Homo sapiens: one gene and its partner. The protein of the gene in region 2 purifies or fractionates together with the protein of the main gene of each other region. This does not show direct contact. Each region holds a gene or a part of one and is shown on either strand. Other genes may lie near its edges. The genes, in order: MKI67 and LIMK1.

Region 1 (15,689 bases), on a different chromosome or scaffold from region 2:
TTTTTATTTCAGGAGGAAATGTGTTCTTCAGTGCACAGAATGCAGCAAAACAGCCATCTGATAAATGCTCTGCAAGCCCTCCCTTAAGACGGCAGTGTATTAGAGAAAATGGAAACGTAGCAAAAACGCCCAGGAACACCTACAAAATGACTTCTCTGGAGACAAAAACTTCAGATACTGAGACAGAGCCTTCAAAAACAGTATCCACTGCAAACAGGTCAGGAAGGTCTACAGAGTTCAGGAATATACAGAAGCTACCTGTGGAAAGTAAGAGTGAAGAAACAAATACAGAAATTGTTGAGTGCATCCTAAAAAGAGGTCAGAAGGCAACACTACTACAACAAAGGAGAGAAGGAGAGATGAAGGAAATAGAAAGACCTTTTGAGACATATAAGGAAAATATTGAATTAAAAGAAAACGATGAAAAGATGAAAGCAATGAAGAGATCAAGAACTTGGGGGCAGAAATGTGCACCAATGTCTGACCTGACAGACCTCAAGAGCTTGCCTGATACAGAACTCATGAAAGACACGGCACGTGGCCAGAATCTCCTCCAAACCCAAGATCATGCCAAGGCACCAAAGAGTGAGAAAGGCAAAATCACTAAAATGCCCTGCCAGTCATTACAACCAGAACCAATAAACACCCCAACACACACAAAACAACAGTTGAAGGCATCCCTGGGGAAAGTAGGTGTGAAAGAAGAGCTCCTAGCAGTCGGCAAGTTCACACGGACGTCAGGGGAGACCACGCACACGCACAGAGAGCCAGCAGGAGATGGCAAGAGCATCAGAACGTTTAAGGAGTCTCCAAAGCAGATCCTGGACCCAGCAGCCCGTGTAACTGGAATGAAGAAGTGGCCAAGAACGCCTAAGGAAGAGGCCCAGTCACTAGAAGACCTGGCTGGCTTCAAAGAGCTCTTCCAGACACCAGGTCCCTCTGAGGAATCAATGACTGATGAGAAAACTACCAAAATAGCCTGCAAATCTCCACCACCAGAATCAGTGGACACTCCAACAAGCACAAAGCAATGGCCTAAGAGAAGTCTCAGGAAAGCAGATGTAGAGGAAGAATTCTTAGCACTCAGGAAACTAACACCATCAGCAGGGAAAGCCATGCTTACGCCCAAACCAGCAGGAGGTGATGAGAAAGACATTAAAGCATTTATGGGAACTCCAGTGCAGAAACTGGACCTGGCAGGAACTTTACCTGGCAGCAAAAGACAGCTACAGACTCCTAAGGAAAAGGCCCAGGCTCTAGAAGACCTGGCTGGCTTTAAAGAGCTCTTCCAGACTCCTGGTCACACCGAGGAATTAGTGGCTGCTGGTAAAACCACTAAAATACCCTGCGACTCTCCACAGTCAGACCCAGTGGACACCCCAACAAGCACAAAGCAACGACCCAAGAGAAGTATCAGGAAAGCAGATGTAGAGGGAGAACTCTTAGCGTGCAGGAATCTAATGCCATCAGCAGGCAAAGCCATGCACACGCCTAAACCATCAGTAGGTGAAGAGAAAGACATCATCATATTTGTGGGAACTCCAGTGCAGAAACTGGACCTGACAGAGAACTTAACCGGCAGCAAGAGACGGCCACAAACTCCTAAGGAAGAGGCCCAGGCTCTGGAAGACCTGACTGGCTTTAAAGAGCTCTTCCAGACCCCTGGTCATACTGAAGAAGCAGTGGCTGCTGGCAAAACTACTAAAATGCCCTGCGAATCTTCTCCACCAGAATCAGCAGACACCCCAACAAGCACAAGAAGGCAGCCCAAGACACCTTTGGAGAAAAGGGACGTACAGAAGGAGCTCTCAGCCCTGAAGAAGCTCACACAGACATCAGGGGAAACCACACACACAGATAAAGTACCAGGAGGTGAGGATAAAAGCATCAACGCGTTTAGGGAAACTGCAAAACAGAAACTGGACCCAGCAGCAAGTGTAACTGGTAGCAAGAGGCACCCAAAAACTAAGGAAAAGGCCCAACCCCTAGAAGACCTGGCTGGCTTGAAAGAGCTCTTCCAGACACCAGTATGCACTGACAAGCCCACGACTCACGAGAAAACTACCAAAATAGCCTGCAGATCACAACCAGACCCAGTGGACACACCAACAAGCTCCAAGCCACAGTCCAAGAGAAGTCTCAGGAAAGTGGACGTAGAAGAAGAATTCTTCGCACTCAGGAAACGAACACCATCAGCAGGCAAAGCCATGCACACACCCAAACCAGCAGTAAGTGGTGAGAAAAACATCTACGCATTTATGGGAACTCCAGTGCAGAAACTGGACCTGACAGAGAACTTAACTGGCAGCAAGAGACGGCTACAAACTCCTAAGGAAAAGGCCCAGGCTCTAGAAGACCTGGCTGGCTTTAAAGAGCTCTTCCAGACACGAGGTCACACTGAGGAATCAATGACTAACGATAAAACTGCCAAAGTAGCCTGCAAATCTTCACAACCAGACCCAGACAAAAACCCAGCAAGCTCCAAGCGACGGCTCAAGACATCCCTGGGGAAAGTGGGCGTGAAAGAAGAGCTCCTAGCAGTTGGCAAGCTCACACAGACATCAGGAGAGACTACACACACACACACAGAGCCAACAGGAGATGGTAAGAGCATGAAAGCATTTATGGAGTCTCCAAAGCAGATCTTAGACTCAGCAGCAAGTCTAACTGGCAGCAAGAGGCAGCTGAGAACTCCTAAGGGAAAGTCTGAAGTCCCTGAAGACCTGGCCGGCTTCATCGAGCTCTTCCAGACACCAAGTCACACTAAGGAATCAATGACTAACGAAAAAACTACCAAAGTATCCTACAGAGCTTCACAGCCAGACCTAGTGGACACCCCAACAAGCTCCAAGCCACAGCCCAAGAGAAGTCTCAGGAAAGCAGACACTGAAGAAGAATTTTTAGCATTTAGGAAACAAACGCCATCAGCAGGCAAAGCCATGCACACACCCAAACCAGCAGTAGGTGAAGAGAAAGACATCAACACGTTTTTGGGAACTCCAGTGCAGAAACTGGACCAGCCAGGAAATTTACCTGGCAGCAATAGACGGCTACAAACTCGTAAGGAAAAGGCCCAGGCTCTAGAAGAACTGACTGGCTTCAGAGAGCTTTTCCAGACACCATGCACTGATAACCCCACGACTGATGAGAAAACTACCAAAAAAATACTCTGCAAATCTCCGCAATCAGACCCAGCGGACACCCCAACAAACACAAAGCAACGGCCCAAGAGAAGCCTCAAGAAAGCAGACGTAGAGGAAGAATTTTTAGCATTCAGGAAACTAACACCATCAGCAGGCAAAGCCATGCACACGCCTAAAGCAGCAGTAGGTGAAGAGAAAGACATCAACACATTTGTGGGGACTCCAGTGGAGAAACTGGACCTGCTAGGAAATTTACCTGGCAGCAAGAGACGGCCACAAACTCCTAAAGAAAAGGCCAAGGCTCTAGAAGATCTGGCTGGCTTCAAAGAGCTCTTCCAGACACCAGGTCACACTGAGGAATCAATGACCGATGACAAAATCACAGAAGTATCCTGCAAATCTCCACAACCAGACCCAGTCAAAACCCCAACAAGCTCCAAGCAACGACTCAAGATATCCTTGGGGAAAGTAGGTGTGAAAGAAGAGGTCCTACCAGTCGGCAAGCTCACACAGACGTCAGGGAAGACCACACAGACACACAGAGAGACAGCAGGAGATGGAAAGAGCATCAAAGCGTTTAAGGAATCTGCAAAGCAGATGCTGGACCCAGCAAACTATGGAACTGGGATGGAGAGGTGGCCAAGAACACCTAAGGAAGAGGCCCAATCACTAGAAGACCTGGCCGGCTTCAAAGAGCTCTTCCAGACACCAGACCACACTGAGGAATCAACAACTGATGACAAAACTACCAAAATAGCCTGCAAATCTCCACCACCAGAATCAATGGACACTCCAACAAGCACAAGGAGGCGGCCCAAAACACCTTTGGGGAAAAGGGATATAGTGGAAGAGCTCTCAGCCCTGAAGCAGCTCACACAGACCACACACACAGACAAAGTACCAGGAGATGAGGATAAAGGCATCAACGTGTTCAGGGAAACTGCAAAACAGAAACTGGACCCAGCAGCAAGTGTAACTGGTAGCAAGAGGCAGCCAAGAACTCCTAAGGGAAAAGCCCAACCCCTAGAAGACTTGGCTGGCTTGAAAGAGCTCTTCCAGACACCAATATGCACTGACAAGCCCACGACTCATGAGAAAACTACCAAAATAGCCTGCAGATCTCCACAACCAGACCCAGTGGGTACCCCAACAATCTTCAAGCCACAGTCCAAGAGAAGTCTCAGGAAAGCAGACGTAGAGGAAGAATCCTTAGCACTCAGGAAACGAACACCATCAGTAGGGAAAGCTATGGACACACCCAAACCAGCAGGAGGTGATGAGAAAGACATGAAAGCATTTATGGGAACTCCAGTGCAGAAATTGGACCTGCCAGGAAATTTACCTGGCAGCAAAAGATGGCCACAAACTCCTAAGGAAAAGGCCCAGGCTCTAGAAGACCTGGCTGGCTTCAAAGAGCTCTTCCAGACACCAGGCACTGACAAGCCCACGACTGATGAGAAAACTACCAAAATAGCCTGCAAATCTCCACAACCAGACCCAGTGGACACCCCAGCAAGCACAAAGCAACGGCCCAAGAGAAACCTCAGGAAAGCAGACGTAGAGGAAGAATTTTTAGCACTCAGGAAACGAACACCATCAGCAGGCAAAGCCATGGACACACCAAAACCAGCAGTAAGTGATGAGAAAAATATCAACACATTTGTGGAAACTCCAGTGCAGAAACTGGACCTGCTAGGAAATTTACCTGGCAGCAAGAGACAGCCACAGACTCCTAAGGAAAAGGCTGAGGCTCTAGAGGACCTGGTTGGCTTCAAAGAACTCTTCCAGACACCAGGTCACACTGAGGAATCAATGACTGATGACAAAATCACAGAAGTATCCTGTAAATCTCCACAGCCAGAGTCATTCAAAACCTCAAGAAGCTCCAAGCAAAGGCTCAAGATACCCCTGGTGAAAGTGGACATGAAAGAAGAGCCCCTAGCAGTCAGCAAGCTCACACGGACATCAGGGGAGACTACGCAAACACACACAGAGCCAACAGGAGATAGTAAGAGCATCAAAGCGTTTAAGGAGTCTCCAAAGCAGATCCTGGACCCAGCAGCAAGTGTAACTGGTAGCAGGAGGCAGCTGAGAACTCGTAAGGAAAAGGCCCGTGCTCTAGAAGACCTGGTTGACTTCAAAGAGCTCTTCTCAGCACCAGGTCACACTGAAGAGTCAATGACTATTGACAAAAACACAAAAATTCCCTGCAAATCTCCCCCACCAGAACTAACAGACACTGCCACGAGCACAAAGAGATGCCCCAAGACACGTCCCAGGAAAGAAGTAAAAGAGGAGCTCTCAGCAGTTGAGAGGCTCACGCAAACATCAGGGCAAAGCACACACACACACAAAGAACCAGCAAGCGGTGATGAGGGCATCAAAGTATTGAAGCAACGTGCAAAGAAGAAACCAAACCCAGTAGAAGAGGAACCCAGCAGGAGAAGGCCAAGAGCACCTAAGGAAAAGGCCCAACCCCTGGAAGACCTGGCCGGCTTCACAGAGCTCTCTGAAACATCAGGTCACACTCAGGAATCACTGACTGCTGGCAAAGCCACTAAAATACCCTGCGAATCTCCCCCACTAGAAGTGGTAGACACCACAGCAAGCACAAAGAGGCATCTCAGGACACGTGTGCAGAAGGTACAAGTAAAAGAAGAGCCTTCAGCAGTCAAGTTCACACAAACATCAGGGGAAACCACGGATGCAGACAAAGAACCAGCAGGTGAAGATAAAGGCATCAAAGCATTGAAGGAATCTGCAAAACAGACACCGGCTCCAGCAGCAAGTGTAACTGGCAGCAGGAGACGGCCAAGAGCACCCAGGGAAAGTGCCCAAGCCATAGAAGACCTAGCTGGCTTCAAAGACCCAGCAGCAGGTCACACTGAAGAATCAATGACTGATGACAAAACCACTAAAATACCCTGCAAATCATCACCAGAACTAGAAGACACCGCAACAAGCTCAAAGAGACGGCCCAGGACACGTGCCCAGAAAGTAGAAGTGAAGGAGGAGCTGTTAGCAGTTGGCAAGCTCACACAAACCTCAGGGGAGACCACGCACACCGACAAAGAGCCGGTAGGTGAGGGCAAAGGCACGAAAGCATTTAAGCAACCTGCAAAGCGGAAGCTGGACGCAGAAGATGTAATTGGCAGCAGGAGACAGCCAAGAGCACCTAAGGAAAAGGCCCAACCCCTGGAAGATCTGGCCAGCTTCCAAGAGCTCTCTCAAACACCAGGCCACACTGAGGAACTGGCAAATGGTGCTGCTGATAGCTTTACAAGCGCTCCAAAGCAAACACCTGACAGTGGAAAACCTCTAAAAATATCCAGAAGAGTTCTTCGGGCCCCTAAAGTAGAACCCGTGGGAGACGTGGTAAGCACCAGAGACCCTGTAAAATCACAAAGCAAAAGCAACACTTCCCTGCCCCCACTGCCCTTCAAGAGGGGAGGTGGCAAAGATGGAAGCGTCACGGGAACCAAGAGGCTGCGCTGCATGCCAGCACCAGAGGAAATTGTGGAGGAGCTGCCAGCCAGCAAGAAGCAGAGGGTTGCTCCCAGGGCAAGAGGCAAATCATCCGAACCCGTGGTCATCATGAAGAGAAGTTTGAGGACTTCTGCAAAAAGAATTGAACCTGCGGAAGAGCTGAACAGCAACGACATGAAAACCAACAAAGAGGAACACAAATTACAAGACTCGGTCCCTGAAAATAAGGTGAGAGGAAGTATTACAGCATCACTCAATATCGTCTTGGATAGTTGTGAATTTCTGTGTTATACTTTGCATGTAACCTGACGTTATAAGTGGTTATCCTTTCCCCAGAGGGTTTCCTTTAACACTGAATAACTGCAGGCCATGGTAAAGAATCTTCTTGGGACCTATAGAGGGAATAGACTAATATGGGAAAAGAACTAGTCAAACATGATTAATGCAAACTTAGAAGAGTTTCTCAAAAGCCAAATGAGTAATGTTCATCTTCAAATGTTTAAAAAATTGATCAGAGGATAGGTGGGTGGTTCAGTTCTATGTTCTGGATACTGTCACCAAGACCAGGACTGGGTTAAAAATCCTATCTATGTCACTATTTTAACTATCAGAACAATATCAATAAGGAATGTGTATTCTTGAGAAGGGGAAACTGTCTGGACTGTTAGATAGAGAGGCTCCCACTGCATGCAGAGAAGTTTGGGGAAACTCCAGAAATGGCAATTTCCTGTTCTGCCTTAGCAGTGATGGTTAAAGGAATAGGAATTCATTTACTCCCTGTAAATGAATGAATAACGGACCTTCTTTCTATAATGTAAACTGTAAAAATTAGATTTGATATATATCTTATTAGGCATTGTTATTGAAATTTATCCTGAATTCCTTATTTATAATTTGTCAGCAGAGACAGTCATTTCTCCATAGGAGCAAAGTACCAAGGCATTACCTTGACTATCCTAGATGACAAGTCTCTTAGACAATTCATCAGTGTGTGATTTTCAAATGATTTCTCCTTTTAGGTTACTGTTGATTGTGCTCCCTGTTGAATTTTGAAGTTTGTTTTACTAATTATTGGAATTTTGTGGATGTCTTCTCATTTCTTTAGGGAATATCCCTGCGCTCCAGACGCCAAAATAAGACTGAGGCAGAACAGCAAATAACTGAGGTCTTTGTATTAGCAGAAAGAATAGAAATAAACAGAAATGAAAAGAAGCCCATGAAGACCTCCCCAGAGATGGACATTCAGAATCCAGATGATGGAGCCCGGAAACCCATACCTAGAGACAAAGTCACTGAGAACAAAAGGTGCTTGAGGTCTGCTAGACAGAATGAGAGCTCCCAGCCTAAGGTGGCAGAGGAGAGCGGAGGGCAGAAGAGTGCGAAGGTTCTCATGCAGAATCAGAAAGGGAAAGGAGAAGCAGGAAATTCAGACTCCATGTGCCTGAGATCAAGAAAGACAAAAAGCCAGCCTGCAGCAAGCACTTTGGAGAGCAAATCTGTGCAGAGAGTAACGCGGAGTGTCAAGAGGTGTGCAGAAAATCCAAAGAAGGTAAGCCATTTACTGTTTCCCTGTTTTAAAAGACACAGAATGTTTTGATGTATTTTTTGCCCAAGGTTGCAAAGGCAAACAAAAAGCATTATCTTCAACAGCACTCTGCCAGCTCCCAGTTACATTAATGGAAGGAGCATTATGCTAAGACATAAATTTGGTCATTTTAGTTATATTTTGTTGTGTCTACTTTGGGAATTTCACTTCAAATAGCAAATTCACGTTATGAAGACTTTCTTCAGAAAGAAAAGGAATTTGTCTAGTGGCTAATTTCTGACTGCTTATGATGTACCTCATGATACAATTGTAGGTAGATGTCTTCAGCCTTTCTGTAGTTCAAAATCACCTCTTGAAACAGGAAAATTCTTTTTCCAAAAAAAACTATTGAAACAGAAAAATTTCCAAGGCATTCTTTGGAAAGGCAGAAGGAACAGAAGTTGGGATGTCCCTGAGACACATGCTCACTATGTGAGAGTTCCTGGTCAGTGGGGGATGCGTCTGCCCTCCAACCCTCCTCCAGCCAGAGACTATCTAAGCTAATGAACTTTAAGTGCTACTGAAATCACATCAAGTTGAGCCACTCATAATTACAAGCATGTGGACAAATCCATAAGAATGATTAGATTCCATTAGTGTTCTTCTGGGGAATACTTGGTTTAGCTAAAATAAAAATAGGTTGAATTGCTCCCTTTTTGTGAGCAATTCACAAAAATATAATATAAATTTAATTCTTAGCACACACAAAATTTGGACCTAAAACTACCATATTCTGAGTTCAGCAAACGAAACTCATGTAGCAATAACCTCTTCAGATACAGAATTCTGGCAAGTACAGCTGTCCAGACAGACCCTCTTCGGCACAAACTAGGAAGCTTCAACTGCCAAGAAAAGGAAAGATTCCCAGGTGTCCCCAGTACCTGCTGCATAGCCAGGCAGCCAGTGGAGGGGGAGGGCTTGTGTGTCTGGATGGTGGGCAGGAAGTCCTAGTGGGGAGATGCCCATAGACTGTTCCAGAGAGGGAAGAGGAGAGGCTCAAGAAGGGCACTGATGCCCACACAGGTGTCCTAAGTCAGAGACTGTACTTCTGGGGCAGGCTGGAAGCAGAAGACACCCGACAGTGCCAGACAAGGTCCTAGAAACCACAGGCACACCAGGGACGCAACAGCTGACGTGGGTCAGCACGTTCACCCGTCGAGTCTTACAATAAAACGCAGGCTCCAGGCGCTTACCGAATTCACAGTCTGGAAGGTGCTGCTTCCTCAGAATGAAACCAAAGAAGGGTGAAAGCGAATCTTTTAACTAGGATGATTCCTAAACACAGAGCAACCAGGCCCAAGGCTGAGCCAGGCCTGGTGTGTTCTGCCGGGGGCGTTCCAGCCTCTTCTCACACACAAGCACCCAGGAGACGCCCAACACACACATGCTCCTCTTTGCCGAGCTCTTCGGTGGGTGTCGGTAGTCCTAGAAAATGCATATATAAGATAGATTTTTTCCAGTAAGAAGCTTGTAGCCATGCTTTTCACCATGGTTCCTCTCCCTTAGCCAAGGGGTGAGAACTACTGCAAGAGTAAAGGCCAAGGCAGGTCTCCTGCATGCAAGTTGGGCATGCTTCTGTCTACAGGGGTTCCTTGGTTTAGGAGACCCAAAAGACTTAATCCTGGTTGGATTCACTTTTTCTGAGTGACATTTTTTAGTTTGTGAAAATGTGTGCATCGATGAAGAAATTTTATTATGAATTAGCTTAAAAATGCATTAGGAACTTCTGTATGAAAAGATCACATTATTTAAGTGTAAAAAAACTGCATAATAAAAGCAGTTCAAGTCAAGAAAAACAATGTTAATGGAATATATTTTAAAACTTATTTCCAACCTCAAAATTAATTTTCTGCAACTAAGGACCTGCATAATACCTAGTAAGCCTTTGGGGTTTTGCAGAGGAGGTCGATTCTAAAAATGGGTGTTTAAATTACTTAAGAGTTCTATTTTTTTTCTTCCCACACAGGCTGAGGACAATGTGTGTGTCAAGAAAATAAGAACCAGAAGTCATAGGGACAGTGAAGATATTTGACAGAAAAATCGAACTGGGAAAAATATAATAAAGTTAGTTTTGTGATAAGTTCTAGTGCAGTTTTTGTCATAAATTACAAGTGAATTCTGTAAGTAAGGCTGTCAGTCTGCTTAAGGGAAGAAAACTTTGGATTTGCTGGGTCTGAATCGGCTTCATAAACTCCACTGGGAGCACTGCTGGGCTCCTGGACTGAGAATAGTTGAACACCGGGGGCTTTGTGAAGGAGTCTGGGCCAAGGTTTGCCCTCAGCTTTGCAGAATGAAGCCTTGAGGTCTGTCACCACCCACAGCCACCCTACAGCAGCCTTAACTGTGACACTTGCCACACTGTGTCGTCGTTTGTTTGCCTATGTCCTCCAGGGCACGGTGGCAGGAACAACTATCCTCGTCTGTCCCAACACTGAGCAGGCACTCGGTAAACACGAATGAATGGATGAGCGCACGGATGAATGGAGCTTACAAGATCTGTCTTTCCAATGGCCGGGGGCATTTGGTCCCCAAATTAAGGCTATTGGACATCTGCACAGGACAGTCCTATTTTTGATGTCCTTTCCTTTCTGAAAATAAAGTTTTGTGCTTTGGAGAATGACTCGTGAGCACATCTTTAGGGACCAAGAGTGACTTTCTGTAAGGAGTGACTCGTGGCTTGCCTTGGTCTCTTGGGAATACTTTTCTAACTAGGGTTGCTCTCACCTGAGACATTCTCCACCCGCGGAATCTCAGGGTCCCAGGCTGTGGGCCATCACGACCTCAAACTGGCTCCTAATCTCCAGCTTTCCTGTCATTGAAAGCTTCGGAAGTTTACTGGCTCTGCTCCCGCCTGTTTTCTTTCTGACTCTATCTGGCAGCCCGATGCCACCCAGTACAGGAAGTGACACCAGTACTCTGTAAAGCATCATCATCCTTGGAGAGACTGAGCACTCAGCACCTTCAGCCACGATTTCAGGATCGCTTCCTTGTGAGCCGCTGCCTCCGAAATCTCCTTTGAAGCCCAGACATCTTTCTCCAGCTTCAGACTTGTAGATATAACTCGTTCATCTTCATTTACTTTCCACTTTGCCCCCTGTCCTCTCTGTGTTCCCCAAATCAGAGAATAGCCCGCCATCCCCCAGGTCACCTGTCTGGATTCCTCCCCATTCACCCACCTTGCCAGGTGCAGGTGAGGATGGTGCACCAGACAGGGTAGCTGTCCCCCAAAATGTGCCCTGTGCGGGCAGTGCCCTGTCTCCACGTTTGTTTCCCCAGTGTCTGGCGGGGAGCCAGGTGACATCATAAATACTTGCTGAATGAATGCAGAAATCAGCGGTACTGACTTGTACTATATTGGCTGCCATGATAGGGTTCTCACAGCGTCATCCATGATCGTAAGGGAGAATGACATTCTGCTTGAGGGAGGGAATAGAAAGGGGCAGGGAGGGGACATCTGAGGGCTTCACAGGGCTGCAAAGGGTACAGGGATTGCACCAGGGCAGAACAGGGGAGGGTGTTCAAGGAAGAGTGGCTCTTAGCAGAGGCACTTTGGAAGGTGTGAGGCATAAATGCTTCCTTCTACGTAGGCCAACCTCAAAACTTTCAGTAGGAATGTTGCTATGATCAAGTTGTTCTAACACTTTAGACTTAGTAGTAATTATGAACCTCACATAGAAAAATTTCATCCAGCCATATGCCTGTGGAGTGGAATATTCTGTTTAGTAGAAAAATCCTTTAGAGTTCAGCTCTAACCAGAAATCTTGCTGAAGTATGTCAGCACCTTTTCTCACCCTGGTAAGTACAGTATTTCAAGAGCACGCTAAGGGTGGTTTTCATTTTACAGGGCTGTTGATGATGGGTTAAAAATGTTCATTTAAGGGCTACCCCCGTGTTTAATAGATGAACACCACTTCTACACAACCCTCCTTGGTACTGGGGGAGGGAGAGATCTGACAAATACTGCCCATTCCCCTAGGCTGACTGGATTTGAGAACAAATACCCACCCATTTCCACCATGGTATGGTAACTTCTCTGAGCTTCAGTTTCCAAGTGAATTTCCATGTAATAGGACATTCCCATTAAATACAAGCTGTTTTTACTTTTTCGCCTCCCAGGGCCTGTGGGATCTGGTCCCCCAGCCTCTCTTGGGCTTTCTTACACTAACTCTGTACCTACCATCTCCTGCCTCCCTTAGGCAGGCACCTCCAACCACCACACACTCCCTGCTGTTTTCCCTGCCTGGAACTTTCCCTCCTGCCCCACCAAGATCATTTCATCCAGTCCTGAGCTCAGCTTAAGGGAGGCTTCTTGCCTGTGGGTTCCCTCACCCCCATGCCTGTCCTCCAGGCTGGGGCAGGTTCTTAGTTTGCCTGGAATTGTTCTGTACCTCTTTGTAGCACGTAGTGTTGTGGAAACTAAGCCACTAATTGAGTTTCTGGCTCCCCTCCTGGGGTTGTAAGTTTTGTTCATTCATGAGGGCCGACTGCATTTCCTGGTTACTCTATCCCAGTGACCAGCCACAGGAGATGTCCAATAAAGTATGTGATGAAATGGTCTTAAAACCCATGGTATTTTTATTATAGGGAGAGTGGGGAAAGAAACTAAGTGTGGGTGGGGCAGACAGGCCAGTGTAAGAGAGACTGGTTCATTACGTTCCATTTTCATTTCTACAAGGACTTGGCTGGATGGTCATTTTCTCTCTTGGCCAATAAGTCATCGCAGCTGCTTTTAGTCCTGCAGGAATGGCCTGCTGTATCTCGAGAACTACCTGCAACCGCAGCTGTGCCTGCTTTGTTGCAACAGAGGTGCTGAGTTGAGGGATGGGGATTTGACCCAGGGCTGCCCCAAGTCAGCAGATGAAAATACATGCCCTGACTTTCCTCTGGCAACCCTGATTTGACATGGATCCCGGGAGTGAATTTGCTGGCAAGTTCCAGGGGCAGTAGCCTGCGGTAGGTCAGTTAGTCCTGAAGAAGAGGCCTTTCTGTCGGAGAGAAAAGTTTGCAGGTGGGTGCATCTACCATCTTGAGAGGCTGAGGAGGGAGGGAGAGCCGTGCTCGGTGGTCAGTCTGGTGAAGGAAGTGGGTTCAGTCTGCAGCCCACATCCTGGGCTGTCATCAAGAATTAACATGGCAAACGGCGACTCCATAAAGTAAACTGTAGCTACTTAACTAAATGATTTCGTGTGGCTGAGATCCTACTGTTTGCTGGGTTTCCTGGAAAAGTCCTCTAGATGAACTGCAGGAATCTCCTGGCACTCTGGTTACAGCTGGAGAAACTGATTTCTGTGCTGTCCAGGTGCTCCCAGACCCCCAAGGCATCTCCAGGACACAGTCACCAAACCCCCATCCTGGTATTACTGGCATTGAGTGCCACGTAGGCACACAGCACTCCATAATTTGGAAATGTGGATTTCATTGCTATTGCTCTTCATGAGGGAACAAATAATACCCATGATGTATTGGCAGGAAGCCACGCCCCCCCTCCCCCGCTGCCACCCCCACAGCGCGCACAGTGATTTCAGGAAGGAGGTTTGATTGGTTTGTTGTGTGTTGCCCTGCAAGGGCCCCAATCAGCTTCCTGCTCATCAGCCCCATCTCAGGCAAGTCCCACATCTGTGATGTCAAGCCCTGAGCCGGGTAATTGGACTTGGATACCTGCTTGACTCATCTTTCCAGTGAGGTTCCTAAGGAGCATCCCCAACCCCACCTCCCAGGGGGAGCTCTCGATGTCACCTGAAGAACAAACAAACAAAAACTGTGTTGATGGTACAGTCCCAGGGCTCCGTGACTGGACAGGCTCCCTGCGTGATACACCTGTGTATGTCACTACAGAAATACAGCTGGTGCAGGCCTGTCCGCCTCTCTCACAGGTCAGAGTGTTCTAAAATCCATCCTGGCCCTTGTTGTCTGTCTGCTTGGGGTTAGGGCAGGTGCTCCTTTATCATTTGTAAAGTTTATGTGATGTCTGGTATGTGTTCCACACCCTTGCAGAGTGTAAATTCCTAGAGAGAGTTCAGACTTCGGAGTCAAATGCACAGGTGCAAATTCCAGCTTGTCTAATTTGCTGCTGTGTGAACGTGGACAGTCTTTCAACTTTGCTAGTTTCCCATCTGTAAAATGAGGCTGTTCAGTACCTGAGCACATAGCATTGTTGAGAAGATTAAATGAGACAATATGTGTAAAACACTTAGCATTTTACCCAGAGCTTGGTAAGCATCAATACATGCTAATTATCATCATCATCAGAAGATGAATATATTTATTAGATGCCTAAAACTCCAAGATATTTCCCTTGGCTCATAAATTCTTTATCACTAGGGATTTCTCTATGGAAGTGAAGGAAGAATCTGGAACGTAACAGGCCTGAATAACCAGGGGCAGTGGCTCACACCTGTAATCCCAGCACATTGGGAGGCCAAGGCTGGAGGATCGCTTGAGGCCAGGAGTTCAAGATCAGCCTGGGCAACATAGCGAGACCCCATCTCTACAAAAAAAAAAAAAAAAGAAAAAAGAAAAGAAAAAATTAGCGGGCATTGTGGCACATACCTGTAGTCCCAGCTACTTGGGAGGCTGATGTGGGAGGACTGCTTGAGCTCAGGAGTTCAAGGCTGCAGTGAGCTATGATTGTATCACTGCACTCCAGCTTGGTCAACAGAGCAAGACCCTGTCTCAAAAAAGAAAAATAAAAATCCTGAATAATATGTCTATGTCTTCATCGAGCCCACGTATTGAAAACTACCCAAACCACCAACAATGCAAAGAAACATTATTTAACTAAGAGTCGAGTAACCAAATTTCAGGGTTATCCAAACTGAATATGGCCTCTGCAGGAGAAAAGAATATGTGTGATGTGGCAGCCACAATCTGATACCATATTAACACTGTCTTTTATTTTTTTTTTTTTGAGACGGTCTCACTCTGTTGCACAGGTTGGAGTGTAGTGGCACAATCTTGGCTCACTGCAACCTCTGCCTTCAAGGTTCAAGAGATTCTCCTGCCTCAGCCTCTGAGGAGCTGGGATTACAGGCATGCACCACACATACCTGGCTAATATTTGTAATTTTTTTTTTAGGAGAGACAGGGTTTCACCATGTTGGCCAGGCTGGTCTCAAACTCCAGACCTCAGGTGATCCAGCCACCTTGGCCTCCCAAAGTGTTGAGATTACAGGCGTGAGCCACCATGCCCAGTCAACAGTGTCTTTAAATGACATCAGATCGCAGAACTTTGCTGAGCTTGGCCCAGACACAGGTCTGGCTAAAACAGGTGGTGCTGGGACCAGGCATGGCCAGGACATAGGGAAGCACATCCCTGCATAGAAAAGGTTCTGTGGATTTTAATCCAGGTCAGCAATTAGCAAACTTTTTCTGTCAAGGACCAGGCAGTAAATATGGCGGCTTCGTGGGCCATACTGTCTGTTATGCTGACTCACCTCTGCTGTTAAAGAACAGAAGCGGCTGTAGGCAACACGCAA
Region 2 (15,689 bases):
ACCCAGGCTGGAGTGCAATGGCACAATCTCAGCTCACTGCAGCCTCTGCCTCCTGAGTTCAAGCGATTCTCGTACCTCAGCCTCCTGAGTAGCTGGGATTACAGGTGCACACCACCACACCCAGCTAATTTTTTTTGTATTTTTAGTAGAGACGGGGTTACACCACATTTCCCAGGCTGGTCTCGAACTCCTGAGCTCATGCAATCCGCCCGCCTTAGCCTCCCAAAGGGCTAGGACTGGCCGGGCGCAGTGGCTCACACCTGTAATCCCAACAGTTGGGGAGGCCAAGGTGGATGGATTACTTGAAGTCAGGAGTTTGAGACCAGCCTGGCCAACATGGTGAAACGCCGTCTCTACTGAAAATACAAAAATTAGCCGAGCGTGGCAGTGGGCGCCTGTAGTCCTAGCTACTTGGGAGGCTGAGGCAGGAATTGCTTGAACCTGGGAGGTGGAGGTTGCAGTGAGTCAAGATTCTGCCACTGCACTCCAGCCTGGGTGGACAGAGCGAGACTCCGTCGCAAAAACAAAGTGCTAGGATTACAGACATGAGTCATTGCACCTGGCCTGCCTGGTATGCTTGGGGCAGATGAGTGCCTTGGGTCCCAAAAAGGTCCCGGATTAGTGGCTTCATATCTGACTCCCAAACTCGCCCTGCAAGAGGAGGCCAAGCTCTATTGCTCCTGCATTGGCAGGAGGGAGCTGGCAGCTTGCCCTGAGCCACAATTGCAGGGTGAAGACGGGAAAGAGACCCTCGATCAGTTGCCTATAAGCTAACTCACAAAAAGACCAATTTGCCAAATTTACTTATTTCTTTTAACTCTTCGGTGTTAGGGACCTGGTTTTCTTTTCTTTTCTTTTTTTTTTTTGAGACAGAGTTTTGCTCTTGTTGCCCAGGCTGGAGTGCAATGGAGTGATCTCGGCTCATTGCAACTTCCGCCTCCCAGGTTCAAGTGATTCTCTTGCCTCAGGCTCCTGAGTAGCTGGGATTACAGGCATGTGCCACCATGCCTGGCTAATTTTGTATTTTTAGTACAGATGGGGTTTCTCTATGTTGGTCAGGCTGGTCTTGAACTCCTGACCTCAGGTAATCCACCCACCTTGGCCTCCCAAAGTGCTGGGATTATAGGCGTGAGCTGGTTTTCATTTTGCCTCATAAAAGCTTTTTAGGGAATGCTCACTTTGTCTCTGCCCTAGGTCCTGGAGATGGAAAAGGGGATGGGGGTAAGGCAGAGAGGAGACTGAGAACTTTAAGAAAAACAGGGCCAGGTGTGGTGGCTCATGCCTGGAATCCCAGCACTTTGGGAGGCCAAGGTGGGAGGATTGCTTGAGACTAGGGGTTTGAGACCAGCCTGGGCAGCATAGCAAGACCCCATCTCTATGACATTTTTTACAGAAAATTAGCTGAGCATGGTGGCACACTCCTGTAATCCCAGCTATTTGGGAGGCTGAGGTGGGAAGATCACTTGAGGTCAGGAGTTCGAGACCAGCCTGAGCAAAATAGTGAGACCTCACCATTACAAAAAATAAAAAATTAGCCAGGCATGGTGGTGCTGCCTGTAGTCCCAGCTACTCGAGAGGCTGAGGCAGGAGGATCGCTTGAGCCCATGAGGTCGAGGCTGCAGTGAGCTATGATCATGTCACTGCACTCCAGCCTGGGCAACAGAGTGAGACCCTATCTCAAAAAAACAACCAAGCAAACAAAAAGACTATTCTCGTATGGGGGAGAAGCTCTTCCTTACAGTAACAAATGCAGAAGGAAGAACAGAGTTAGAAATTCAGCATTTGGTAGCCACCCTAGTAATAATCGCTACAGGCAAGAATCATCAATAGATGCTCAAATCATTTGGGGAAGGGTTTTTGGGAACAGGATATTTACAGACTCAAATCTCACAAATGGTTTATTGATGACAAAGGGAAAAAAATCCTTACAGTACAGAAAAAACAAGTAATCAAAGTGAACATCCTCAGCAAAGGGCACACTGACATCATATGTCTCCTGGCAAGATCCACTCGGAAGGACAGAGGATCACTTATGCAGTATCAGGCCAAACCTGCAGAGCCTGTCTCCCTAAGAGGAAACATCAGTCAAACCCAAATGCGAGGGCAGGTACGATGGCTCACGCCTGTAATCCCAGCACTTTGGGAAGCTGAGGCGGGAGGATCACTTGAGCCTAGGAGTCTGAGACCAGCCTGGGCAACACAGTGAGACCCTGTCTCTTTTTAAAAAAAAAAAAAAAAAAAAGGAAAAACATTTTACTTTAATGACTGGCCTGTACACTTCAAAAATGTCAAGATCATGAAGGGCAATGAAAGGCTGAGGAAATGGCCAGACGCAGTGGCTCATGCCTGTAAACCCAGCATTTTGGGAGGCTGAGGTGGGTGGATCATTTGAGGTCAGGAGTTCAAGACCAGCCAGGGCAACATGGTAAAACCCCGTCTCTAATAAAAATACAAAAATTAGGCATGCATAATGGTGCACGCCTGTAATCTCAGCTACTTAGGAGGCTGAGGCAGGAGAATCACTTAAGCCCAAAGGCGGAGGTTGCAATAAGCCAAGATTGCGCCATTGCGCTCCAACCTGGGCAACAAGAGCAAAATTCCGTCTCAAAAAAAAAAAAAAAAAAGATACTGATGACACATGACGATTAAATGCAATGTTGATCATGGACTGGACTGTGGATGAGGGGGAGATTGCTATAAAGGACAGCTCAGTAGTTCAGTATAGAGACAATAGGCAAAATTTGAATATGGTCTGTGTATTAGATAATGGTATCAATGTTACATTTCCAAAATGTGATCACTGAACTATAAGATACAATTGATAATTACATAACAGAATGCCTAGCCAGGCGTGGTGGCCCGTGCCTGTAGTCCCAGCTACTTGGGAGGCAGAGGTGGGAGGATCACTTGAGCCTGGGAGGTTGAGGCTGCAGTGAGCTGTGATCGCATCACTGCACTCCAGCCTCAATGACAGTGATACCCTGTCTCCAAAAAAAAAAAAAAAAAAGAGAAGGTCCTTCTTTTGAGAATATCTAGCATAATTGTGGGGGAGTCAATGATCCCTGCAACTTACTCCCAAACGATCAATAAATAACAACATGTACATGTATGTACAAATATAAACAAGTCACTAAACATGTATATGTATCTGTATCCATATATGTATATATAGAGAGACACACATATAACTCCCAAATATGGCAGTTACGAATTGGTGAACCTTGGTGAAGGGTGTGTATGTATTCAATGGACTTATTATTTTAGCAAATTTTCTATAAATCTGCAAAATGCGAAGATGAAAAGTTGAAAAAAACCAAAGAAAATATTTTCATTGATACAGGCTTTGCATGCATATAACCTTAAAAATAAGCCAGGCATAGTGGCTCACGCTTGTAATCCTAGCACTTTGGGAAGCCAATGTGGGAGGATTGCTTGAGCCCAGGAGTTCAAGACTAGCCTGGGCGACACAGCAAGACTCAGTCTCTACAAAAAATTAAAAAATTAGCTGGGTGTGGTGGTGTGTGCCTGTAGTCTCACTACTCAGGAGGCCGAGGTGAGTGGATTGCTTGAGCACAGGCATCTGAGGCTATAGTGAGCTATGATTGTGCCACTGCACTCCAGCCTGTATGACAGAGCAAGACCCTGTCTCAAAAAAAAATTGTGTGTCTATATATATATATATATATATATGACATACATATGTAAATTCCTTAGAATCTCACATCCTCTCCCTTGGTTTGCTAAAGCAGCAGGTGGCCTGGATAAATTAGACCTTCCTTAAAACGCTGCTATACACAAAATGAAAAGCGGTCAACTAAAACCAGTTTAAAACAAATAAGTAAATCTTTGGCAAGTTGGGCTCTTTCTGGGAAGGGTGTGGCTCTTTGCAGAACTGGGATGTTCCAGATGTTGGCTGGGCGAATGCTTACCCAGTGAGGCAGACAGGGAGGAGACGTCATTAACTGTCTTCTTCATTTTTATTTTAGAGATAGGGTCTCGCTCTGTCGCCCAAGCTGGAATGCATGGTGTCATCATAGCTTGCTGCAGCCTCCACCTCCTGGGCTCAAGCAATCCTCTCACCTCAGCCCTCCGAAGTGGCTGAGATAACAGGCATGAGCCGCTGCACCCAGCTGACTGTCTTCATTTCTAAAATTCTGCCTGGATTTCAGGGACCAGCTGCAGCCTCTGACTCTGTGGGGACCTCCCTTGGCCCTCTGGTAAGAGCCGTTGGTCTGGGAGTTTCCTCATCTCTTTCAAGCAGCTGTCTGCTCATCATGTATGTAAAGCAGCTGCTGGCTTGGCTGATGTCAAGGGATGGAGACACACAGTCAAGCCCAGTATAATTTTCTGTCCCCAGGGCCACCTTCACATCTCAACAGTGCCTATGCAGTGCCAGGCACCTGCCAGGTGTACAAGAAACATTCACTGCGTCAAATGAAAGCTAGCACTTGGTAGGGCCGGGCGTGGTGGCTCATGCCTGTAATCGCAGCACTTTGGGAGGCCGAGACGGGCGGATCACGAGGTCAGGAGATCGAGACCATCCTGCCTAATATGGTGAAACCCTGTCTCTACTAAATATAAAAAAAAAATTAGCCGGGCATGGTGGCAGGTGCCTGTAGTCCCAGCTACTCGGGAGGCTGAGGCAGGAGAATGGCGTGAACCCAGGAGGCGGGGCTTGCAGTGAGCCGAGACCACACCACTGCACTCCAGCCTGGGCGACAGAGCGAGACTCCGTCTCGAAAAAAAAAAAAAGAGAGAGAGAAAGCTAGCACTTGGGCCGGGCACGGTGGCTCACACCTGTAATCCCGGCACTTTGGGAGGCCGAGAAGGGAGGATCACTTGAGCCCAGGAGTTTGAAACGAGCCTGGCCAACATGGTGAAACCCTGTCTTTACTAAAAATACAAAAATTAGCCACATGTGGTCACCTGTAGTCCCAGCTACTCAGGGGGCTGAGGTGCAAGAATTGCTTGAACCTTGTGGGTGGAGGTTGCAGTGAGCTGGTATCACACCACTGCACCCCAGACTGGGCGACAGAGTGAGACTGTCTCAAAAAAAAAGAAGTGACCAATTGCCCAAAAGTAGAAACACTGCATGCTACTTCTCAAGGTGTCAATAAAGGCGCCACAGAAATCTTAGAAAGCTCCAAGGTATCCAACTCCCTCATTGTTCAAACAGACCCCCAAAGCCTAGAGAGAAAGCAGCTGCTCAAAGTCACACAGTAATCTAATCTTTATCAGCCCTGCCCCATTTTTTTGAGACAGGGTTTTGCTCCATTGCCCAGCCTAGAGTGCAGTCGTGCAATTATAGCTCACTGTAGCCACTTCCTGGGCTCAAGAGATCCTTCTGCCTCAGCCTCCCAAGTAGCTGTGACTACAATGTTTCCCAGGCTGGTTTCGAACTCCTGGCCTCAAGTGATCCTCCCATCTCAGCCTCCCAAAGTGTTTCGATTATAAGTGTGAGCAACCATGCCCAGCCTTTATGTGTTCAGTGATTTCACCATGCCTGGCTAATTTTTAATTTTTTTTTTTTTTTTGTAGACATGCAGGTCTCGCTATGTTGCCCAAGCTGGTCTCAAACTTCTGGCCTTAAGTGATCCTCTCACTTTGGCCTCCCAAAGTGCTGAGATTACAGGTGTGAGTTACTGCGCCCAGCTTCTTCACTCATTCTTGACTTGGTTCCTCCTCTTTCTTGTTGGATCAGACATGGACTAAAGAAAATGTCTTTTTATTTTTTGAGTGTGTTTTTTTTATTTTTATTTTTTTGATACAGAGTTACACTCTTGTTGCCCAGCCTGGAGTGCAATGGCAGTCGGGGCTCACTGAAACCTCCACCTCCTGGGTTCAAGTGATTCTCCTGCCTCAGCCTCCCAAGCAGCTGGCACTATAGGCACACACTACCATGCCTGGCTACGTTTGTATTTTTAGTAGAGACGGGGTTTCACCACATTGCCCAGGCTGGTCTCGAACTCCTGACCTCAGGTGATCCACCCACTTCGGCCTCCCGAAGTGCTGAGATTACAGGTGTGGGCCACCATGCCCGGTTGAAAATGTCTTTTTATTGTATCTGGCATTTGTAATGGTATTCAGAGGAATGACTGGGCCAGAAATCTGGCAAACCAGGTTGTCAGAACTGGGCCCCATCTGTACCCAAACACTCGCCCATTCATTTTCAGGGCCCCCAGTGCCAGACTCTGCCACCCACATCAACAGCCATAGCCACACCGACGGCAGCCTCGGCAGGCCGGCCACTCACCCCTGGACGCGGACGGTGTGTGAGTGCTCGGTGCCACAGCCCGGTGGGCCGTGCGGGGGGTCAATGGAGACTGAAAGTCCACGCTTGCCATGAGATGAGGCTGGGATGGACACCAGGGTGACGGTGTGGGGCAGGTGGGAGCCAGGGGAGTCAGGCAGGATCTGCTCGATGACGGGGGTCACCACAGTCTGGTAGTAGCAGTGCCCGCTGCAAGAGCCGCCGGGGTGGGAAGAAAAGAGTGTCAAGGGCGTCATCAATTTCAGCATCTCTGCAGCCCCCAGCCCCAGGCTCTTCCCCCAATCCCTTCCTTTTTTTTTTTTTTTTTTGAGATGGAGTCTCACTCTGTTGATTACAACACTGCACCCCAGCCTGGGTGACAAAGCAAGACTCTGTCTCAAAAGAAAAGGAAAGCTAGCAATTGTCCAAAAGTGCAGTGGTGTGATCTTGGCTCACTGTAACCTCCGCCTCCTGGGTTCAAGCGATTCTCCTGCCTCAGCCTCCTGAGTAGCTGGGATTACGGGCACGCACCACCATGCCTGGCTAATTTCTTATTTTTAGTAGAGACGGTTTCACCATGTTGGCCAGGCTGGCCTCAAACTCCAGACCTCAGGTGATCTGCCTGCCTTGGCCTCCCAAAGTGCTGGGATTATAGGGGTGAGCCACTGCACCTGGCCAGCTTTCTTTTCTTTCACTCTTCCTATGGAACTGGGAGCAGGAACTGTGCGTGCCCAGCCAGCCCTCGTCCCTCTGAGTCATTCGGGTCTGTCTACTCGCTGTGATCCTGTAAGGCGGCCAGGACAAGGCCTGAGGATAAATCCAGTTCAGGAGGAAGTCATTAAAAGCCCATCTGGGATCAAGCCACGTTGTCCTCTAATCCAGCTTGATCAGTGTTGTATAAGAAAGAATCTGTCTGGGTTTTGTCCTGATTCCTGGGAGGGAGACTCTAAGTCCTTGGAATGGGGTATCTTTGTTATTCATGAGCCCCTCAGACTATTCCTGAGTTGATACTAATGAGATGACTCAGCCCCGCAAAGATACATCATGTGATTTGAAGAGGGTTGCAGCTTTCATCCAGCCTGACCTCCAAGAACGGGGGCTAGAGACTAAGCTTGATCATACGGCCAATGACTCAATCAGTCATGACGATGTAATGAAATCCCAATAAAAACTCTGGCTGCTGAAGCTCAGTGAAGCTTCCTGGTTGGTGATCACATTGATGTGCTAGGGGAGGGAGGGGAGATGCTTCTTCATTTGGTCGGACCTGAGCTGTGTCCTTCATAATAAAACTGGGATAAAAATGGAGGATTTCCTGAGTTCTGTGAGTCTGTTAGCAAACGATCAAACTTGGCAGGGTCTTGGGAGTCCCTGAATTTGTAGCCAGTCGGTCAGAAGTGTGAGTGGGTTGGGGACCCCTGAACTTGTGGCTGGTGTCTAAAGAGGGAGCAGTTATGCTGGGGATGGTGTCCTTAACTTGTGGCATCCACCCCACCTCTGGTGGTTTGTGCCAGCACCATGCTGCAGTCATGGCCAGTAAGAAAGCTGACGTCTGAGGTTTTCTGTTTTGAGACAGAGTCTTGCTCTGTTGCCTAGGCTGGAGGGCAGTGGTGCAATCTTGGCTCACTGCAACTTCCACCTCCCAGGTTCAAGAGAGTCTCCTGCCTCAGCCTCCTGAGTAGCTGGGATTACAGGCACCCGCCACCACACCTGGTTAATTTTTGTATTTTTAATAGAGATGGGGTTCCACCATGTTGGCCAGGCTGGTCTTGAACTCCTAGCCTCAAGGGATCCACCCACCTCGGAATCCCAAAGTGCTGGGTTTACAGGCGTGAGCCAGCATGCCTGGCCGTCTGAGGCTTTTTCACACTGACTTCTGTGTGTTATTTCTCACTTGTTTCCATGCCGGGATGGGAAAGGAGATATGAACATTTGCCCCAACAAACCTCACCCCATGGGAAAGGGCAGGAGGCCCGGGTGTGGGAGAGTCAGCACCCTTGCAGATCTGTGACACAGGTGGGCCTCCTAGGCTCAGGGAGGGGCCAAGGCACTCACCAGTACAGCTTGGAGTGCTCCACCAGCGTGTAGGTGTCCCCGTCACCGATAAAGGTCCCACACGTGAGGCAGATGAAACACTCGGGGTGGTACTTCAGCTCCCCAGCCACCTGGTGCGGGGGTGAGGAGGGAACAGCCCAGCTCAGCAGACCCAACAACCCCCACAGATCCTCCCCTAGGCCTCTTCCAAGGGTGTCACCAAAAAAACAACTGCAGGGACCCGGCTGGCCAGCTGCTGAGCTCCTGGACAGAGCTGGCTCCATAGATGGGGGCGCTGAGGGATACAGACAGACAGTCAGGCTCAGAAAGCAGCTCCAAAGACCAGCAAAAAGGAGACCAGGAGAGACAATGATGGGAGAGAGACCTGGAGCATGGGGTCTGCTTGGATACCCCCACCCCAGGTGAGTGTGCAAGGCAGGGGGCGCTCACCATAACCAGTCCCTTGGTGATTTGCTCAGAGCACCCATGGCAGGACTCGCCATAGCGGGCCCAGTAGTCCTTCTTGCAGAAGAGCTGCCCATCCTTCTCATAGTACTGGTGCGACAGGGAGGCACTGCAGTCACAACACCTGCAGGAGAGGGGCCGGGCTGAGACGTCCACTCCCGCCCTCCTCCACCTCACCTGGGCCCCTGCCTCGGCTACAGGCACCTTTGTAAGAATTAGAACAAGTTTTCTTTTTGTTTGTTTTTTGAGACGGAGTCTTGCTCTGTCGCCAGGCTGCAGTGCAGTGGCTCGATCTCGGCTCACTGCAACCTCTGCCTTCCAGGTTCAAGTGATCCTCCTGCCTCAGCCTCCTGAGTAGCTGGGACTACAGGCACACACCACCATGCCCAGCTAATTTTTTGTATTTTTAGTAGAGATGGGGTTTCACCATCTTGGCCAGGATGGTCTTGAGCTCTTGACCTCGTGATCCGCCCACCTCGGCCTCCCAAAGCGGTGGCTCACACCTGTAATCCCAGCACTTTGGGAGGCCGAGGTGGGCAGATCACTTGGGGTCAGGAGTCTGAGACCAGCCTGGCCAACATGGCAAAACCCAGTCTCCACTAAAAATACAAAAACTAGCCAGGCATGGTGGTGGGCACCTGTAATCCCAGCTACTCGGGAGGCTGAGGCAGAAGAATCGCTTGAACCTGGGAGGCAGAGGTTGCAGTGAGCCAAAATTGTGCCACTGCACTCCAGCCTGGCGACAGAGTGAGACTCTGTCTCCAAAAAAAAAAAAAAGAAAAAGAAAAATAGAGGAGAATCCCCAGGTGTGCAGGGTCATCAAAGCCACGGTTCGCCTGTTTCCTCACTAGAGGCTACCAAGGAGGCCTGGTTGGTGGGGCCTTGAAGGGCAGATGGGGAGGAATGCCAGGCTGTAGGTGCCACAACACAGGCCAGGGTTAGACCTACATTCCCGGCTTTTTCCCAGCCAAGCATCCCGGTGGGGTGGGGACCAGCAGCCCTGCCCAGCCAGGATGAACAAATATAGAAATGTCAGTCTGGGATGGGCATGGTGGCTCATGCCTGTAATCTCAGCACTTCAGGAGGCGAAGGTGGGAGGATCACTTGAGGCCAGAGGTTTGAGGCCAGCCTGGGCAACACAGTAAGACCCCATCTCTTAAAAAATTATTAAAAAATTAGCCAGGATACAGTGGGTCCTGTACTCCCAGCTACTAGGGAGGCTGGGGAGGGAGGATCGCTTGAGCCCAGGAGTTGAAGGCTGCAGTGTGCTATGATTACACCACTGCACTCCAGCTGGGTGACACAGCAAGACCCTCTCTCTAAAAAATAAAATAAACCAAATGCGGGTGCCCCAGTGAACCCGCAGGCACACATGTGCCCCCCTGGGTCCTGCTGTGGGGGGGCATGTCTGGGTCAGGGTACAGACCCACACAGAGAACAGGCTAGGGGGTCCGTCCCGCTCTGCCACTGTTTGGGTGCTATGTGTCGGTCACACAGGGACAGAAGAACCAGGCTCCAAAGGGCCACAATCTAGGAGAGAGGCAGGTAGGAAAGACTGGGACCTGGATGAGATGAGGGACCTTAAGGGCTGTTTCCTACCCAGGAAACTCTCCACAGCCTGGGGCCTGCATGGGTATCACTCATGGGCTGTCTGCTAATGCTAATTAACTGTAACTAGGGAACTGGGGTTGAGGAGGGGAGTTCAGCAGTAAGCTGGTGGGACACTGTCCCTTTAAGAGGATCCAGCCACTTCCCCTTTGTCTGGGAGCCTAGGGGAAGGGGTGGGAGTAAAGGGGGAGCAGAAAATGCCAGGGTTTGGAAGCATGTGGGTGAGGGGTGCATCCAGGAAGGGAGGCCTGGTGCATTCCTCCATGGGGGTGGGGAATGCGGAGGCTGGGCCACCGGAGGTGGTGGCGGTGGCAGGGGCGGCAGGAGACGCCACGTCAGGGTCACTGCCCCACTCGGTGCACAGCAGGGGGCCGGCAGTTCACCGGATCACCGCGGGGGTGGGGCGGAGGACGGAAGTTGGTGAGGGGGGTGGTCTACAGGGCACCTCCCGTCCCAGGGCTCTAACCTAATTCGAAAGGGAAAGGAGTGCTGCAGCCGGGAGGCCAGGCCGACTTTGGGTCCTGCCCTCGCAGAAGCCCCCACGCCTGGTGCAGACCAATGACTCGCTTCCTGCCCTTACACCGATCACACATGACCTCGGTCACAGGGGTGCCACATCACAGGAGTGCCCCTCACTCCTGCCTGCAGGAAGCAGGGCCCCCGCATACCTCTGCAGTGGGCGGTGGGTGGGTGGGGGATTAGGAATTGCTGTAACCAAGTGTCCCCATCCCGGGGAGGGAACGCTCTTCCACAACCTGGAAACTGCTACTGGTCCATTCACTCGCTCACGCAGAAACTCACAAACCTTCATCACTGTTGCTCACTTTCAGCAGCTGTGAAAGACCCGGCGGTGATGACTCACCCGAGGGTTTGAGTGCACTTGGCTTCCCTCCGGTCACCACTTCCTTGATGCCTGTTCTACCAGACACTAGGTCTGCCCACCAGTGTCTGCCACTGACCTGCCAGCTCCCCGCGGCCCCAGGCTGGGCATCCACAAAGCTTGGCCCAGGAGAGAGCATAAGTGATTCCTGCCGGCGAGGCCCCCGCTGTGCACCCAGCATCCTCAGAACTGCCCCGAGACCCCGTCTCTGCCTCCATTGCAGACAGGGCACCCAGGCCTGGCCCAGGCTGACTTGGTGGCTCAGTGGCTGGGGCTCGGGGCCTCAGTGAACCTTTGCGGATGGAGAGCACGCCGGAGTTCCTGTCCCTGCCCCTGCCCCGCCCCTCACCCCTCAGGCCTGCATTCTGGCAGGAGCTAGAGGCTGACGGGCCTGGCTCTCTTGAGTGCCCCACACAGAGTGCCTGACTGTCCCTAAGAAGGATGTCAAGGGAGGTGCGCCAGGTACTGAGGCTGTGCAGAGCTGCCCTGGGGACAGCCAGAGAGGAACTCCCTCGGGGGAGAGCCATGCCCTGGCCCCACTCCAGGGTACCCCTCCCTGAGAGCAGGGTAGGACAAAGCCAGGCTGGGGCAGGAGAAGGGGGAGGCACCCGGAGGGCATGAAAGGGGTGCTCTGCAGCCCAGGTGGCTGGCTGGGCTGGGAGACAGCGGTGGCTTCCATAATGACAGGAGTGGAGAATCATCGTTCTACCCAGGGCCACATCCCTGGCCACCAGGTGTGAAGAAACAGCAGGTGGAGGACCGGCCTCATGGGGAGACTGTCCTGGAAGGACCCACAGCTTTGGCAGTGGCCTGCTCCCAGGCTGCAGCCGACAGTAACCAAGGAGTTTCAGTTCTGCCCCAGAGCCTGGACCTAGGTGGGTCGGCTTCCAGCCCCAGGCCTTACACCAGGGGCCCTGCCTGGAGCCCAGGACAAGTAGGGAGGGGGATTCCCACTTACTTAGCCCTCTGGAGGAAGCGGCGTCTTCTTGGGGCTGAAGCCAACAGCATCCTCTGTGGCTACACTGGGGGCTCTGGAGGTCTAAGGGAGGGCAGGGGTGGCCAGACCAGCTGCTTCCCCATCCTCCCTCAGGGGCTCAGGATTGGAGGCTGCAGAGGGTGGGGCCAGCGTGGCTGCAGCGCACAGGAGGAGGCTGCAGCCGCGTGGGTGCCAGGGGACTTGGTCTGAGCCTGCAACAGGAAGTGGCTGAAGCACCCTTTGCCTGGGCTTTGGTGCGGGTGGGGAGCGAGCGATCTAGGCTTGGACCCCAGGCAGGGAGCCTGTGGCCCGTCCCTGGCCCTCAGTCCTGAACACACGCTGTAGGCTCCTCAGCCTCGGCCCTGGCAACGGCACTGAAGGCCTCAGGCTTCTCTGGGGACAGGGACAAGCTCAAAAGCAGCTGCCTCTTCCACTGCTGCCCCCAAGGGAACAGAGGTCGACTTCCTATGGACAGTTTGTCTTCGCCAAAAAGGTCCCCTGAAGAAAGGGAGGTTGCATCCCGCCGCTGCTCCAACCCCACAGGCCAGCAGCATGCTCAGCCCTCCTTGCCCAGGGCCAGCCCACCCAGCTGCCAAGGAGATGCTACCAGGGATGCGGCAGCCCTGGGGGTTGTGCACAGGAGGCTTCCTGGAGGGGACCTCGCAGAGGCAGTATGTGAGCCAAAGGGAAGCCTGGACCAGTCCAAGCCTGGTCATAACCTTCCGGGAGGCAGGGCCTGCAAGGGGCTGGGAGGTCAGAACACAGAAAGGGGCAGGCCCCGGAGTGACAACCCTCAGGGCTAATACCAGAGGTCCCATGGGCCTGCAGCAATTGTCCCACTCTACAAAGAGGGGCAGCATCTGGTCCCGGCTGAGCCCTCCAGCAGCCTGCAGGCCCCCATCACAGCACTTATGACCCTGTCTGTCCTATCAGCGTGGGACTTCCTCAAGAGCAGGGGCCAGGGGACAGGAGCAGCTCTCAGATGCTCAGGTTATGACATTCAAAGATGCACAGCTGCCTGTGCGCAGTGGCTCATGCCTGTAACCCCAGCACTTTGGGAGGCTGAGGTAGACAGATCGCTTGAGGTCAGGAGTTTGAGGCCAGCCTGGCTAACATGGTGAAACCCCGTCTCTATTAAAAACACAAAAATTAGCCAGGTGTGGTGGTGGGCGCCTGTAGTCCCAGCTACCAGGAAGCTGAGGCAGGAGAATCGCTTGAACCCGGGAGGCGGAGGTTGCAGTGAGCTGAGATCACGCCACTGCACTCCAGCCTGGGCAACAAAAGCGAGACTCTGTCTCAAAAAAAAAAAAAAAAAAAAAAAAAAAAAGCTGTACAGCCAACGGCACCTTCCACGGGGCCCACAAGGCTCTATGCACCCCTGGCCACTGACTGCACTCCCGCACGCTGGCTTTGTGGTCCTCAGTTGTGCCAAGCACATTCCCACCCCAAGGCCTTTGCACATGCACCGGCCCTACCCCCGACATCCTCTAAACACTGCTCCCTTCAATTCTGTCCCTTAAACATCACTTCCTGAGAGTGCTGTCCCCCAATACCTGACACTACATTTGTTCACTGAGTGTCTTGCCCACTAGAAGGCAGGGACCCTGTTGGTCTGGGAGGTGTGGGACTAAGCTGTGGTTACACTGTAGGCTCTGAAGCCAGGCTGCCTCGGTTCGAGTCCTGATTCTACTCCTCACGCGCTGTGAGACTTTTGGCAAGTGACTGAACTCTGCACCTCATTTGTAAAATCGCTTTTTAAAAATTTGAGACAGTGTCTCGCTCTGTTGCCCAGGCCAGAGTGCAGTGGCGTGATCACAGCTCACTGCAGCTTCGACATCCTGGGTTCAAATGATCCTCCCATCTCAGCCTCCTGAGTAGCTGGGACTACAGGTACGCACCACCACGCCTGGCTAATTTTTTTGTAGAGATGGAGTCTCACTATGTTGCCTAGGTTGATCTCAAACTCCTGGCCTCAAGCAGTCCTCCTGCCTCAGCCTCCCAAAGTGCTGGGATTACAGGCGTGAGTTACCAGCCTTGGCCTTAAAATCGCTTTAATATTGCCGGGCACGGTGGCTCACGCCTGTAATCCCAGCACTTTGGGAGGCTGAGGTGGGCGGATCACGAGGTCAGGAGATCGAGACCATCCTGGCTCACACAGCGAAACCTCGTCTGTACTAAAAATACAAACAAACAAAAAAAAATTAGCCGGGTGTGGTGGTGGGCGCCTGTAGTCCCAGCTACTTGGGAGGCTGAGGCAGGAGAATGGTGTGAACCCGGGAGGCAGAGCTTGCAGTAAGCCGAGATTGCGCCACCGCACTCCAGCCTGGGCGACAGAGCGAGACTCAAAAAAAAAATCGCTTTAATAAATAAATAGCACCCCCTTACTGGGTTGTTGTGAGAGGGGCCTAATGCAGAGTGGGCACGCCATAATTATTTGCAAGTGACTGACTCAGGGACCCTAGGAAGTTCCACTGGGAGGGGCATGCAGAGGGGCCAGGAAAGTGGAAATCACTGGCCACCTCCCCAGTGGGGCTGGAGGCTGCAGACCCCTCATGGCCTTATCACATTGCCCCTGCCCGAACACCTTCAGAGGGGTGAGGGGCCCTGGAACAAAGGTCTCAGTGCATGAAATGAGGTCTGGGCCGGGCCCAATGCCTCAAGCCCAGGGCCCGAGGGAGACTAAGCAGAGTCTAGCACCTTGGGCATCCCACTGAGAGCCAGCCTGGCTGTGGTCAGCCATGCACCCAGGTGAGCAGTGACCCCCTCTGAGCTGCTCTGCTCACTGTCACGCGGTGAGGACCACCAGCTTTGGGGACTGTTGGGAGTATCACACCCACAAGCCACGAGGTAGAAGCCATGGCTCTTACTTCTAGTGGATCTTTCCCCATATTGAGACTTTTTTTTTTCGAGATGGAGTCTTGCTCTGTCACCCAGGCTAGAGTGCAGTGGCGCGATCTTGACTCACTGCAATCACTGCCTCTCGGGTTCAAGCGATTCTTCTGCCTCAGCCTCCTGAGTAGCTGGGATTACAGGCGCCCACCAACAGGCCCGGCTAATTTTTGTATTTTTAGTAGAGATGGGGTTTCACCATGTTGGCCAGACTGGTCTCAAACTCCCGACCTCAGGTGATCTGCCTGCCTTGGCCTCCCAAAGTGCTGGGATTACAGGCGTGAGCCACTGCACCTGGCTTCCTTCTTGAGTTTCACTACACCAGGGACAGCACAAACATGCCTCCTCTTTACTGCCCTGACCTGGGGACTCACCCCTCTCCTGGTGAGTGATTTGGGACAGGCCACTCCAAAGCCAGGTACACCCATCCTGTAACACGGCTTCCCTCCTGTGGCTTCTGTGGCTCTACTCCTGACCCTCTCTCCATCACCCAAGGCTCCATCTCCCCCCTCACCGCAGACACAGGGGTCCCCAAAGTTCTTCCCTTCATTCGTCTTGGCCCTATCACAAATCCCACTCACCATCTCAGG

What was found.
Region 1: the proteins of LIMK1 (region 2) and MKI67 purify together in Homo sapiens (affinity purification with mass spectrometry; 2 studies listed by BioGRID and IntAct, with this or other methods). This does not show direct contact.

What each region holds. Positions count from the first base shown.
Region 1 is NC_000010.11:128,093,747-128,109,435, reverse strand, and holds the end of MKI67 (proliferation marker protein Ki-67), read left to right. Parts: intron 1-12; coding exon 13-6,857; intron 6,858-7,734; coding exon 7,735-8,178; intron 8,179-10,180; coding exon 10,181-10,246; 3' UTR 10,247-12,777; downstream 12,778-15,689. UniProt on the Homo sapiens protein: Protein that associates with the surface of mitotic chromosomes and acts both as a chromosome repellent during early mitosis and chromosome attractant during late mitosis.
Region 2 is NC_000007.14:74,089,803-74,105,491, reverse strand, and holds part of LIMK1 (LIM domain kinase 1), read right to left. Parts: intron 12,276-15,689; exon of another isoform or gene 12,243-12,275; coding exon of another isoform or gene 12,193-12,242; intron 8,871-12,192; coding exon 8,732-8,870; intron 8,413-8,731; coding exon 8,303-8,412; intron 6,461-8,302; coding exon 6,254-6,460; intron 1-6,253. UniProt on the Homo sapiens protein: Serine/threonine-protein kinase that plays an essential role in the regulation of actin filament dynamics. Acts downstream of several Rho family GTPase signal transduction pathways.